Linked DNA regions of Homo sapiens: region 2 is linked to region 1. The links come from fine-mapping of genetic effects on gene expression. A gene starts in region 1. The other region holds a variant in brackets. All regions are shown on one strand. Distances are from middle to middle.

Region 1 (2,971 bases):
CCCTACTTCCCCAAACCTGGGTGATCACCCTCCAGCTACCCATATCTGGGAAAATGGGAGAAAGGAGTCTGGGACCGAAGGGGGTGCTAGGGAACCTGAAGGCGGGGAAACCGCTGACATCAGAAGCATCCAGAAATGGAAAGAGGGGGAACTAGGGAGAAGGAGGAGAGTTTGAGCAGAAGAGAAAGAGGGGGCAAAGTGGTAGTATCTGAAAATAGCAGGAAAAGCTCAAACCCCCTGGAGAGGAGGCTTTGGAGGGAGGAGGGACTGGAGGAGGGAGGGAGGGAGGGAGCAGGGAATAGGAGGCTGAGAAGAAAAGCCAAATGTTCAATAAGGTGCTGACTCCCCGTGGGGAGACCTTGACTCTTCCTCCCTGGCCCAGAGCCTCAGTTTCCCTCTCATGGGAGGAAGGATGGTCCCAGTTTTAGTGCGTGATGCTGAGCTTCAGTGAGCCCTGGGAAGGGGGGTAAGGGAATCGGGTGAAACCCTGAACAGAGTGGGGCTGTAAGGAAGCACATAATGGCTTTAGGGTAAGTGGGGTAAAAATGGGGCACAGCAGTGAAAGGGTCTGTTTCCCATGGAAGCAGCTCAGACCCTTGCTTTCCCCAAGAGGTCCTGGTCCACCCCCACCCTTGGCTTCCCTCCGGAGCCCAGTACACCCTAGTTGCCATGGCAATGGCCAGCCAGAGGGAGGTGGAGGGACTTGGCCAAGAGCAGCCCCCAGTGTCCTCTCCTACAGCCCTGGACCCCTTCCCACCCACCTCCACCCAGGCCCAGCTGGTGGGCTCAGGATGAAAGAGATAGGGAGTCAGAGAGGGAAGGAGGCAGGAAAGATGTGAAGGACAGAGAGAGGGAGGTGAAGGACAGGGAGAGATCAGAGGAAGGTGGGAAGGGGGATCTGGGAGGTTCCCTGGCCGACGGGGTCCCTCGCCCTTTGGGGTGAAGGGGTAAGGTCAGGCGGCTCCTCCCTCCTGTCCCCCTCCAGGTTCTCCAGGGCAGAAACAGCAGGTGGCTGGGGAGGAGGGGCCGGCCTAGGGGAGAGGAGGCAGCTTGAGGGGGAAAGGGAGGCAACACAGGGGACGGGGCAGGCAGGGGTCGTCTTACCTCTCTCCGGCTGCGCCCAGCACTGCCATGGAGACCGCACTCCCGACGCGGCTCTCTCGGGCTCCCGCTGCCTGCCGGCTCCAGCTCGCCCGCCCTCCTCCCTCCTTCCCTCTCTCCCTCCCTCCCTTCCCCCGGGCCTCCCTCCTCCCCCTCAGTCCCGGCCTCCCAGGCTCAGCCCACGGCTCACTCGGTCTCTGCCCCTCTCACTCTCCAGGACCCTCTCTCCCGGGGTCGTCCTGCCAGTGAGCCCAGGCCAGAGGGAAGGCAGGACAGCTTTGTGGGGGGCGGGGGGGGGCGGGAAACGAGTGCAGGGTGGGGAACTGGACGGTGGTGACTCGGGGAGGAGGGGCAAGGAAGGCGCTGAGAGGGAGGGCGGTGAGGAGGATGGCTGGGAACCGGCTTCATTGGTGAAATGGTTCATGTCCTGCCCCCACCCCTTCCCGTTTTCAACACGAACACAAGCTCCAAGAGGCAGCTGGTGTTGTTGGGGACTGAGGAGCTAGCTGTTCGGGGAGGAGGAAGCGTGTGTCACTGTGTGTATCTGTGTGAGGGCTGGGCCTTGGGTTTGGGAGTGAGGGGGCTTGTGGTGCACACTGGGGCTGCTTGTGGAGTTGGGGGTGGTTGTGCACAAGCTAAAAGGATGTGGGCGCATGCATGCACACAGACACACACACTCTGCCTCCTCCTCCTGGAACACAAACACATATGTTGGGGATACAATTTGCACACACATGTTACAGTTTCTCATAGTCCTTTTTCTCTGCCACACACATACACCAGGAGAGCTCACACAACCCTGAGTCTCTCCCCCACGGTATATCACACACATGTAATTACAGAGTCTCAGCCTCACACACACACAGGCCCACACAGAGCCCTGTGGGTTGTGGAGGTGGGTAGCCAGCCTCCACAGAATTTTTCCCTCTCCAGGGAAACTTCATCTCCTTCCTGGGGCACGCCCAGCAACCTCTCCTCTGGGTCCGACCCCAAAGACCAGAAGATTCCTGGTCCCCAGAGAAGGGGTCTCTCTCTCTCTCTCTCTCTCACACACACACACACACACACACACACACACACACACACACGAAGAGCATCTTTATAGTAAGTTTATTGTATTTTTATTTCAGCTCAGGGGAGCAGGGGTGGAGAGTGGGCACAAATGCAAAGTAAGCAAATGGGGAGCCCCAGCAGCAATAGGGGGGTCTTCCTGGAAGAGGCAGGCTTTAAAGACAGGAGGAGAAGGAAATAGGGAAAAGGAGTTGGGACTGAGGGAAGTGGTGAGGAAGGGTAGGAAGAGAGGGGATCCTGAGAGAAGTGGATCAAGAAGATTTGTAACCCTGATTTCCCTGTGTCCTGAATGGTCTGGAGGAGGGTAAGGGAGGGTGTGGGGCAGGCGCAGAGCCTGGCACAATCACCTTTGAGGTCCCTTAGAGGGTTCCCTCTCAGGCTAGCTACCCCCTCTCCCAGCAAAGCTCGCTTCCAGGAGGTTCTGCACAGGGTCAGTGACTGGTCACTGGGCATTCTCTCCTGCAGTGCCTGTGCTCCCAGCTTGCGCTCTGATTAGAAGAGCCAAAGGCTTTGTCCTCTGGTAACAGATTCTGCCACCAGCGGGGGATGAAGGAGGGATTTTAGACAGGGAGGCCTTCATCCCTGCTCGTAAATTCTCTGAGATGGACCCTTCCCATGGGTGCTGTGCTTCTGTGAACCCAAAAGTACACATTGAGTACCCACCACTAGCCACTGGTGAGAGCCGTGTGGCATTTGTCCCTGCATTCAAGAGGCAGCAGTGGAACTTGGGACAAGGGACCTGGGTTAGTCCCGACTCCAGCACTTGCTAGTCCGGCACTTGGTAATCAATCATCTAGCC
Region 2 (2,837 bases), 22 kb after region 1:
GGTGTGAGCCACTACAGCCGGCCTTTTTTTTTTTAATTAAAAAAATTTTTTTTGGCTAGGCATAGTGACACACACCTGTAATTCCAGCACTCTGAGAGGCCAAGGTGAGTGGATCACTTGAGCTCATGAGTTCGAGACCAGCCTGGCCAACATGGTGAAACCCTGTCTCTATAAAAAATACAAAAATTAGCCTGGCATGGTGGTGCATGCCTGTAGTCCCAGCTACTTGGGAGGCTGAGGTGGGATGATGACTTGAGCCTGGGAGGTGGAGATTGCAGTGAGCCGAGATCACACCACTGCACTGGAGCCTGGGTGATAGAACTAGACCTTGTCTCCAAAAAAAATATATATATATTTTTTTTCATAGAGACAGAGTCTCACTATGTTGTTCAGGCTGGTCTTGAACTCCTGGACTCAAGCAATCCTCCGGCCTCAGCCTCCCACAGTGCTAGGATTATACATATGAGTCACTGTGCAAAGTATTATCTACATAGGTCTGTAGCAACAATACTCAAGAAATCACGGGTTTTAAGTGATAGTGATTGTTCTAAAACTCACTAAAATAAGTTCATGAATATTAAATATTAAAATATTGAAATTCACATACCACCTTTCCCTGGGCCACCAGCAGTTGGTGTAGAGAAACTCTGGATAAGAATGCCACTGAGTTTCTGTCAACCCAAGCCCTCTGGGATCCCAGAGTTTAACTAAGACCAGATCTCAGACACCAAAGGCTTTCACTCCATAGTGTGTTTTCCTCCCTGGATGGGGAGCCAGGCAACCCTACCTTTAGTTAAGAAGGAGCCCTGATTTCCCAGAATCTTTATCTGGTTGGAGTTTTTCCAGTGGAATTGTATGCTCTTCTTCTGGGAAGCTGTACAGGTCAGTTCCACTGTATCCCCTTTTTTGCCCAGCACCACTTTCTTTCCCTGAGTGGCTGCTGGGAGGAGCGCTAAGTGGAAAAGAAAGGAGTCAGGTCTCAATGTCGCCGCTGTCCCCCTCTACCCCATCCTCCACCTTTGCCTTTCCTCCCACG[T/C]CATCTGCATTGAGACCCCAGGTCTGAGAACTTACCCAGTTGCAGCACCAGAAGCAAGTGCCTAAAAGGGACTCCCCGGTTCATTGTGGCCTTGCCGAGGGAGGCAGGGGCCTGAGCCAGTAGGGACCTGAGCCCACAGAAATGGCAGGGCCTGAGGGAAATGCCAATCATTAGTCAGCAAACATTTACTGGACCTGGAGTATACAGGGGCGATACACAACCTCTCCCTCAGGACCCTTGCAGCCAGCCTAGTGAACTTGAGGCAGGAGAATAGCAGAGGGAATTGGAGGTTGGATTAAGGAAGGAATGAGTAGGAGCAGAAGCAAGAGAAAGAGGCAGGTGAGCAAAAACAGAAGATAAATAAGTGAATAAGGAGCCCCATGGCTGGCTAGATCCAAACCAAACCAGTTAGGAGCAGCTCCTAAGAGATGGGCATATACTAGGCTGGGTGCGGTGGCTCATGCCTGTAATCCCAGTGCTTTGGGAGGCCGAGGTGGGTGGATCACTTGCGGTCAGGAGTTCGAGATCAGCCTGGCCAACATGGTGAAACCCCATCTCTACTAAAAATACAAAAATTAGCCGGGCGTGGTGGCATGCACCTGTAGTCTCAGGTGCTTAGGAAGCTGAGGCAGGAGAATCACTTGAACCAGGGAGGAGGAGGTTGCAGTGAGCCAAGATTGCACCACTGCAAAAAAAGATGCACATGTACTACAGAGAAAAGATATCCTCAAAATGACCCCGTATAGTAATTAGCTACTTAAGGTTCATGCCTACAGAGTGCATATCATGCATGTACTTAAAACTATGGGAAGGAAATGACACGTAAACACACAGAGGCCAAGAAACTAAGCAACCCACCTGTCAACCAAAAGGCACATGCTGGCTAAAGCTTAGGCAGCTTGAGGAAAAAGAGAAAAAAAACACATAGAAAAGGCCATGAAATATAGCAAAGTGATGCTGATACCATTCGCAGGTCATCCTTGATCCATAGTGGATCGTACTGTGCTTAATAAACTTTTGCTGCTTTGCTATTTGTGTGTGTCATGTCCAATTTTTTGTTTGCGGCACCAACAACTTGGGACTTCACAACATCAGCCAGTAACAAAGTAAACTTGCACACCCCTAACTGGATGCTCTGAGATACACACCACGAAATGCTATGCTCAGGCCAGGAGGGGGTTCTTTGCTGGGATGAGTGAGGAGGGGATCAGAAAAGGATGCATGGAGAAGGTGGCAAATTGGCGGGGAGACCATGGAGCCAGGCCAGGACGTGGAAATGCTTGAAGGCCGTGCTGAGATGCTGGGACTGGATCCTGGGCACTAGAGAGCCAGCAGAGGATTTTCTATAGAGAAGAAGATTATTAGATTTGCCACGTGGACCCCTGCAGCTGCTGAGTGAAAGAACTGGAGGAGGCGAGGCACCAAAGGCAGAACTGCAACCATCCTGGTCAGCAAAGGGCCTGAGCCAAGTGGCTGTAGAAATGTGTGGGACAGTTCTAAGGTGACGTTCCCAAGAATTGGGGCCTGATACAGCGTGAGAGGTATGGGGAAAAGAAAGAGAGATCAGATTGTTACTGTGTCTATGTAGAAAAAGGAAGACATAAGAAACTCCATTTTGATCTGTACTAAGAAAAATTGTTCTGCTTTGAGATGCTGTTAATCTGTAACTTTTGTCCCAACCCTGTGCTCACAAAAACATGTCCTGTATTGAATCAAGGTTTAATGGATCTAGGGCTGCGCAAGATGCACTTTTAAAAAGTTCTTGCCTCACACGTGTAATCCCAGCATTTTGGGAGGCCAA

Evidence for each region. PIP is the estimated chance that this variant, and not a neighbour inherited with it, causes the effect.
Region 2: its variant is fine-mapped to the expression of GPR162 in whole blood (TOPMed, PIP 0.97).

Annotation. Positions count from the first base shown.
Region 1 is chr12:6,820,034-6,823,004 of GRCh38, reverse strand. It overlaps GPR162 (G protein-coupled receptor 162), which reads right to left and starts at 1,184. Exons shown (of 5, transcript NM_019858.2): 1 at 1,105-1,184. CD4 (CD4 molecule) reads right to left here. Exons shown (of 10, transcript NM_000616.5): 10 at 2,206-2,971. RefSeq lists an enhancer at 1,201-2,173.
Region 2 is chr12:6,798,422-6,801,258 of GRCh38, reverse strand. It overlaps CD4 (CD4 molecule), which reads right to left. Exons shown (of 10, transcript NM_000616.5): 2 at 1,072-1,187; 3 at 788-952. The coding sequence starts at 1,120. Among named protein-coding and RNA genes, the nearest start is that of CD4, 10 kb to the right of the region's middle. The variant T/C (reference allele first, on the strand shown) is at 1,037.